Regions from separate parts of the Homo sapiens genome. Here regions 1 and 2 are each linked to region 3. The links come from fine-mapping of genetic effects on gene expression. A gene starts in region 3. Each other region holds a variant in brackets. All regions are shown on one strand. Distances are from middle to middle.

Region 1 (2,756 bases), 34 kb after region 3:
CACTGGTAACTCTCTCCTGACTCACCAGTCCTTATACATCAGCATGACAATCTAGGGAGAAGCTATTACTTTTCTTCAGCTATGAGAACCATGCTACCCAAAGCCAAGTACCATGAAGATGAAGAAATTGTCAAGGTTTACCCTGTCCATTCGGTTGCGGTGCCGAATCTCCAGCTGCTCCTTAGCCTTCTGGAAGCGAGCATGCTCATTATCATCTGCAGAGGTCTCGAAATACACATCAACATCATTGGTTGGCAGAGGAGTTGGAGGAACTGAAACAAAATTACAGAGGGAGTTCTCTTTGGGATCAGATGCACTGTGCTCTAGGAAGAAAACCCAGCTCAGGACCTGCAGGATGGACTCAATTTGTTTTGTGGCATTCTCTAAGTGCAGGGTGCTGCTATCTGCCAAGACTTCACTTGGTTAGATTACAGTGGGCAATCTTCCTTACACAATATTCATCAACCATGTCAGCCCACGCTAATACAGCAATTTATTGGCAGCTTCAGCACCAGTGAGGCATCTACTTAAGACCTCAGGGCTGAAAAAGAGGTGGTTTCTTCTATACCTTCCCTTCAGTGCTCGAACCCTGGAAACCTAAACAATAGCTACCTTATTGCTCGTAACTGAGCATCTGAACAGAGACAAGGGCAGGAATCAGACCCTGTAGAGGCACTTTTATGCAATTCCTTATTTTTAAAGAAATTTATTACTCAGGTACCTCTGCTCTTCTGGCTATCTTTGAGTCTTAATTTACAACAGAAAACAGGCTCAAGTGAATGTTCTTTGCATATACGCTGGGTAGAGAAAGTCCCCATCACTCCAGCTATAATTTTGAGTTTTCAGTATCAGTGAAGGACTCTTAGCCCCACCATCAGTGACAGAACCAACAAGGATAAAACTGAGTTGCTCTATTTGACAAGGACACCTTTCACCGATATGAAGATAGGGCTTTTTGATCCATGACACTGACCAATAGGGCTTCCCAAGCGTTCCCCAGAGCACAGGCCCATTGGAGCACCCCCGACTGCTGGATGGGCATAATCTCTCATGGGGCCCAAGCAAGTCTCTGCACGATGGAATTTAGCCTGATAAGGGAAAGGACTGAGATGACAAGTTTACTCAGTCAGCCTCTCAAGACATACCTAAGGTAACACTTA[C/T]TAGCCTAATTCATGCAAGATTTCCCAAGCTGGTGTGGACTTGCTTGATAGATTATGACACAATTTCAGAGCTAAGTGGAGAGTGAATGCCAAGGTTCAACTGATTTTTAATTCAGAAGCAAATTCACCTAATTTCTAGAATTGTATCATTTTAATACATTAAAACAACCATATAATTGATGAATACAGCTACAAATTAGCCAGCCAGTTCAACTTTTTTCTGTCGGAAGCATCTTTTATTTGCCCATTTAACAGACCTAAAAACGACAACTAAAGTCATGAAGAATATGAGCCCTACATAAGTTTTAAAAGGGTGTCAATATCCCACTTTCAGATTAACTAAATTAGAATCGATAACTTGGTAAATGCCATTCCCCAAGACACTCGCAAGTTCAGTGGAGGAGAATTTCAAGCACTGCAGTCCATCATGCGGATCAGTGACACATGCCTGTGCTATAAAGGCCTGAGCGCTGGAGACGGAGCCTTTGGTTCACATTGCTGGACTGGAAAAAGGGAACAGCAAACACAGGCTGCTTCCAGCCTCCCTGGGACCAGAGTGGAGAGGACAGCGGGCCGAAATGCTTTTTTCTGAAGACACCCTCGGTCCCTGTGGAATCACCCACTCATGAAGCCGGCACATCCGCCAGCCTCAGCCCCTTCAAAGAAGAACAAAAACGCTCCCACTGGAAGTAAACTTGATGCTTCTCAACCTGCAAAGCCCTCCAGGCAGAGGCCCCACAAGAACATGAACACAAAGCTTCTCCGAGGCAAATCTCATCCAAGCCACAGCAAACGGGAGTTTTACAGACCTGCCACTCCATCATGTCTCACAGCACCACCCAGCTGACCCTTCGGGTAGAGATCACCACCTCCACACTCAGTGGGATTCCTCAGGCTTCAGTCCAAGTTTTACAAAGCAGTAAGTATCACAATAATTTCTATTTCTAAATCTTTCCTGAAAACGCAAAGTTTATTCACCAAGGTTCCCTAAGGCCTCCTTTTCTTTCACCTTTCAACTGTTACCGAATAAAAACAGCTTTCCTGGAGCTGGAAGGGAAGCACTCAAGGCACTGCCATATTACATTAAGATTTGAAAGATCTTTTGGTAGAAGGAAGGAAGAGGGAACATGAAGGCATGTGAATGAAAAACCGTCAGAAGCTATAGCCAAATTCTTCATAGCAAATTATTACTCCAACAAATTCCAGAGTAGGAACCAAGAAAAACTGTCTGGCCTGAGGATTTTCCTAATGTGTAGGTTAGTGCTGCAAGGTGAGAGACTGAAGGTCTTAACGAGAAAAAGGAGTAGCCATGGAGAAAAGGGAAAACTCTTGGTAGAAACTCTTTCTACCAACGTCCAGCATAAACCCAACTCAACTGAACCACTGACCTTCCTGTCACACCAAAGCACACACCAACTGAAATCCTCTCACTTCCTAAAGCTGTGTGACCCGGTTGCAAAATATTGAAGAAACAGAGTGAGTCACTACCACTTGGCTGCTAGCTCTCTCTAGAGTGCATTATGCAAGATATTTCAATATTCTAGACTGCCCAAAGTACTTCACTGTCACTCCTTTCGAGAGGAGGCGCCCCATGAG
Region 2 (2,756 bases), 86 kb after region 3:
AACAGAAGGGTATATACAATATTACAGTAAGGTTTCCCTGGGGAATAAGATTTTAGGTCATTTTTCACTTCTTATTGGTTATCTGTACTTTTAAATTTCTTACAATGAATATGTACTACCTATAGAATTCTTCTTCTGTTATTTTAGAAAGAAAATCCAAAAGCCTCAAAATTTAGTAAGGGTAAACAGAATTAAACAATCTTGAAAGGGGCCAGGTGTGGAGGCTCACGCCTGTAATCCCAGCACTTTGGAAGGCCAAGGCAGGCAGATCACAAGGTCAGAAGTTTGGAACCAGCCTGGCCAATATGGTGAAACCCTGTCTCTACTAAAAATATAAAAATGAGCCAGGCATGGTGGTGGGCTCCTGTAGTCCCAGCTACTCTGGAGGCTGAGGCAGGAGAGTCGCTTGAACCTGAAAAACGGAGGTTGCAGTAAGCCGAGATCATGCCAGTGCACTCCAGCCTGGGCGACAGAGTGAGACTCCAACTCAAAAAAGAAAAACAAAACAACAACAACAACAACAAAACATGTTTTCAAATGCTATAAAGAACATGATTGGGTCAACAAACTAACTAGAAAACCGACAGCAGATAAGATCCAAGTATTGTATCAATGTTAAATTTCATTAGGTTGATGGCTGTACTAAGCCTATGTAAGACAATGTCTTTGGCTCTTAGAAAATATATACTGAAGTTCTCAGGGGTAAAGGGGATGGGGGACGACGTATGCAACTTACTCTCAAATAATTTGGCAAAAAATGCAGTAGTAAAGCAAATGTGACTAGAAGAAATGTTAACAATTGGTGAATCTGAGTAAAGGGTAAGAAAATTGTACAATTTTTGCATTTTTTATAAGATTAAAGTTATTTCTTTTTTTTATTCTTGTTTTCTTGAGATGGAGTCTCGCTCTGTTGCCCAGGCTGGAGTGCAGTGGTGTGATCTCGGCTCACTGTAACCTCCACCTCCCAGATTCTCCTGCCTCAGCCTCCTGAGTAGCTGGGATTACAGGCGCACGCCATCTCGCCCAGCTAATTTTTGTATTTTTAGTAGAGACGGAGTTTCACCATGTTGCTCAGGCTGGTCTCGAACTCCTGACCTCGTGATCCACCCACCTCGGCCTCCCAAAGTGCTAGGATTACAGGCGTGAGCCACCGCGCCTGGTGATTAAAGTTATTTCTAAGTAAAACATTTTTAATTGAAAAAGTTTAAAAATCAACACATTCAAAATTGTTCTAACAAAAATACTTAAGAGCATGTTGGGCCAACTTCCAGCAAGACTTTATGTGGAAAAATATAGGAACATATTAAAAAATTCTGCTAATAAAAACATATGCAGGACCAACTTTAAGCAAAATTTTAAATCAGCACCATCTAACAGAAATACAATGTGAGCCACATACATAGTATTAAATTTTCTAGGAACCATATTAGAGTGAAAAGAAACAAGTGAAATTAATTTTAATGTTTTATTTAGCCCATGTCTAAAGTATTGTTTCAATTTAGTCAATACAAAAATTGAGATTTTAATTCTTCTGTATTAAATCTTCAAAATCTGATGTGTATGTTACACTTCCAGTACATCTCAATTCAGAAGCTAAA[T/C]TTTCATAGGAAATACTTGATCTACATTTAGATTTCATAAAATGTACAGTTTAAAAGTAAATTCGCATAACCAAATTATTTCAGTTAAAAGTTTTCCAACCACTGAATCAGATTTTAAATGTAAACTTAAATTAATTAAAATTAAATAAAATGAAAAATTCACTCCTCATTCACACTAGTCACCCTACAGACTCAATAACCACATGTGGCTTGTGGCTACACCCTGGGAAAGCCTGGCTTTAGATGGTAAAACAAATTCCCTCTACAAAAGGAGGAACTAATTGATAAAACTGAAGTTTATCGTATTTATCAAAAGATTTTTAAAACATAGTTATGATAAAAATAACGGGCCGGGCGCTGTGGCTCACGCCTGTAATCCCAGCACTTTGGGAGGCCGAGGCAGGTGGATCACCTGAGATCAGGTGTTCCAGACCAGCCTGGCCAACATGGTGAAACCCTGTCTCTACTAAAAATACAAAAATTAGCTGGGCGTGGTGGCAGGCGCCTGCAATCCCAGCTACTTGGGAGTCTGAGGCAGGAGAATCGCTTGAACTCGGAAGGCGGAAGTTGCAGTGAGCCCAGAGATCCCACCATTGCACTCCAGCCTGGGACAGAGCGAGACTCCGTATCAAAAAAAAAAAAAAAAAAAAGACGATATTCCTATCAGAAGCACACCAAGGTTTCTCTCCAAGGTACAATTACACATCTCCCATACCACCTGTCAGAAACACCAACACAAAGCCTTCTCTACTCTGCCTCAGTTGACATCCTTTAATTTGGGTTTGAGTTTCCAGAAAACTGGCAATCAAATGGCCTTCTTTCTTTCAAATGTGACAGAACAAACTCAAGTTCCGGTTCTCAGGAGCCTAGTCATCCACTGCACAGTATGCGGGGTTTCAGCACAATACTGTCTCAGTCCCAAATGGGAGCATGCACACAGGAGAACTTGTCTCGGATTTAAGAGAGGAAGTGACCCTGAGTCCAGAGGTGAGCTTTTTCTTTTTAAACAGGTGTAAGAGATTAATTCAGTCAACACCAAGCAACACTAAAGATTTGCCAATCAATAATTCTGTGCCAAGCAACTTGATCAGGGATTTGGCCAGAATCCCTTTCGCTAATCTCAATCAGGGCCTTCCCAAAGACATCCTGATTTAGGCC
Region 3 (2,756 bases):
GATTTTCTGCAAGCTCCCTAGGTCGGGATGCTGCTTGGACAAAAGGAATTGATCTGAGACAGCACCAAAATCAGGCCTGACTTAGGGAGCAACGGCGGAGACTATGGAGCCCAGGGGCACCCGGAAGGAGGGGAGAAAGTGAGGGTTGGCAGGGCAGGGAGGCCATCATTTGCAGAGGAGCAAAACTCTCTGCCACACAGCCCCTGCCTCTCAGCGCCGCCCTGACCTGGTATGCCCTGGCCTTCCAGGAAACCTGGGGGTCTGCCTTGGACAGAGAGGGTAGAGACCTGGCTGCTGGTCCCGCCCGGGCACTACCACCTAGGTGGGTCCGTCAATGAAGTGACTAGCGACCCATCCCCAACTCCATACAGGAACATGTAATCTTTTTGAGATCTTTCAATAGGTCTTTCATTGTTCTTTCTGCCAAAGAAGAGCTTCCTGTTTCGGTACTTCGCAAAAGGCTCAAGACATGTGTGTTCCCACATCCCTTCCCATACAGCCGCCTTCCCAAAGGGCTCCATCCCCTCTCGAGAAGCCCAGGCAAGCCCAACTCTGGAGTTCTTAGCTCCAGCCCGTATGGCAGCCAAAGCCCTGGCCTCCCAGTTGTCCTCTGCGAGGTCCCAAAGCGCCTTTTGACGGGGAAGGAGAGAGACGAAAGAAACTTTCTGCAGAGGCCAAGGATGGCTGAGACTCCAAACCCTCCTGAAATTTCACTTCCTCCCAAATAACCCCACTCCAAGCCCCTGGTTTCTTCCAGATGTTCACTAACAGCGCGAGAGTCATGGAGGGGCCGAGACGGAGCCCCTTTTTTCAACTCAGGGAAAGAAAGGACCGAGGGCGCAGGAAGGCCCAGGGGCTTCCCGCCTCCCCCTGGCGGGGCGCAGCCGGTCCGGTACCAAAGGTCCGGCCAGCCCCGCCCGCCCGCGGCCCGGCACCCGCTGAACAGGAAATTCCACCTGTGCGCCCAGAGCTCGGCCACCGACGGACACGCCAGGGGAGCCGGCCGAGCCCAGCGCCGCGCTGCAGGGTCGGGCGGGCAGGAGCTTCCCAGCGCCCCGGGTCCCCGGCCCGCGCTCACCTCGTGCCGGGAGTTGTACTTGAGTCCCGCGCCGAAGTCCTTCGGGCCCCCTCCGCCCTTGCGGGCCCGATCGCTCCCCATGGTCCCCGAGGCCGCTCGCGGGTCTCACAGGCGTCGTCCCTGCCGGCGGCCGGCTCCCATGGCCCGCAGGGCGCGGGGCGCGGGGCGCAGGCGGCGGGATTCCGGGCAGGCCCAGCGCGCCCGACCGGCGGCGGTGCCCTCGCCCTGGCGCGCTCTCTCTCCCTCTTCCTCTTTCTCCGGCTGCAGCTCCGCTCTCACACTCCGGCCCGGCCCACGCAGGTAGTTTCAGGGTGTGGCCTCGGCCCGCCCAGCCCGCCGCGCTCGCCTGCGCACCTGCCCGGCTCACCTGCCCGCCCCCGCCGGCCCTGGGGGAGGCTCCTCCCCTCGGCTCTGGGCCTGAAGGTGAGGGGGCCTCACTCGGGTGGTGGTCGCTAAGGCCCTCACCATCACCACGACGGCGTTCACCACCCCTCCGGCCCTCCAGGGGCCCTGCCCCGGGAGGGCAGCCCTTTATCCACCTCCTTGATGCCAACCATCTTTTCCCTCCTCCCTCATGCGCCTCCGGTCTCTCCCCTTCACCTTGCTCACTTTGCTACAGGACTAAATCGCATTTATGAACCCCCCAAAACCAAACAGAAACCAGAACCGCCCCTGGCCCAGGCTCCCCGTCGGCTACGCAGCCTCCTGTTCTCCAGGCGGGAGGCGCTTGCTGGCCTGCGCCCGGCTACCCTGGGGAGGCCCAGTGACATGAGCTGTGCCACCAGATGCCCTCTGAGCCATCCCAACGCCCCTCGCCCACTTGCAGCATCTGATGCTTCCTCAAATGCCCCCTTTCCCTGGATTCCGGTCCTCCTTTCTAGTCCTAAATGTCATGATTCCCAAAGTTCTCCCTTCAGTTTCATCCCTTTCTTCTCTAAGCTTTTTCTCTTGGCAGCACGTCTCATCTTACGACTTCAGACAGGAAGACCTCCCTCCCAGCACAGACACCACCAAGGAGTGCCAGTTCTGCCTTAGCGGTCGCCTGGGGACGTCTCCATTTATGTTCTACTGTATTCTGTAGCCAATGAACATTACCAAGCACACACTAGGCGCTAAGCACTGTCCTGGGTACAGGGAAACAGGAGTGAACAAAATAAAAATCCCTGCTTTGAGATCAACAAGCCCCATCTTCCTTCCCTGACTTGCCCATTTTCCACTGTTTTCTCTAATTCTAATGGCAGCATTCTCCCAGGCTCAAATCCTGGAATCATCTTTGATTCTCCACCCTGCTTACATCTCATATCCAATTAGTTCCAAATCTGATCAAGACTCTGCTGACAAGCATAGCCCTTCCATTCCTGCGCATTAGAAGACCGCTATTCGAGTCCTCAGAGCCCTTTGCCTGGTTAAGAAAGATCTCCTGCCTCTGGGCTGCCACCCTCTGATCTCTCCTACACAAAGCAGTCAGGTAAATCTGAAACCACAGCTCCTTTATGACTTTCCGTGTCTCCCGGATCAAATCCAACCTCCTTAGCCCAGCTTCACACTCTGCCCTGTCCTCCCTTAACACCGTGCCTCCAAGCATTCCTGTTTGGAGCCCCTCTCTCCAGCCAGGCGTTCTGATCTTGGCAGCTTTCATAAAGCTTTTCATCCCCTGGAAGCTCTTCTCCTTCATACT

Evidence for each region.
Region 1: its variant is fine-mapped to the expression of ST14 in whole blood (TOPMed, PIP above 0.99).
Region 2: its variant is fine-mapped to the expression of ST14 in whole blood (INTERVAL, PIP above 0.99).

The regions. Positions count from the first base shown.
Region 1 is chr11:130,124,216-130,126,971 of GRCh38, reverse strand. It overlaps APLP2 (amyloid beta precursor like protein 2), which reads right to left. Exons shown (of 17, transcript NM_001142276.2): 8 at 142-272. Among named protein-coding and RNA genes, the nearest start is that of ST14, 34 kb to the left of the region's middle. RefSeq lists an enhancer at 2,747-2,756. The variant C/T (reference allele first, on the strand shown) is at 1,161.
Region 2 is chr11:130,071,967-130,074,722 of GRCh38, reverse strand. The region is part of intron 1 of APLP2 (amyloid beta precursor like protein 2); the gene reads right to left. Among named protein-coding and RNA genes, the nearest start is that of APLP2, 3.5 kb to the right of the region's middle. The variant T/C (reference allele first, on the strand shown) is at 1,599.
Region 3 is chr11:130,158,383-130,161,138 of GRCh38, reverse strand. It overlaps ST14 (ST14 transmembrane serine protease matriptase), which reads right to left and starts at 1,357. Exons shown (of 19, transcript NM_021978.4): 1 at 1,079-1,357. The coding sequence starts at 1,159. RefSeq lists an enhancer at 1-121 and silencers at 1,209-1,278, 1,359-1,478.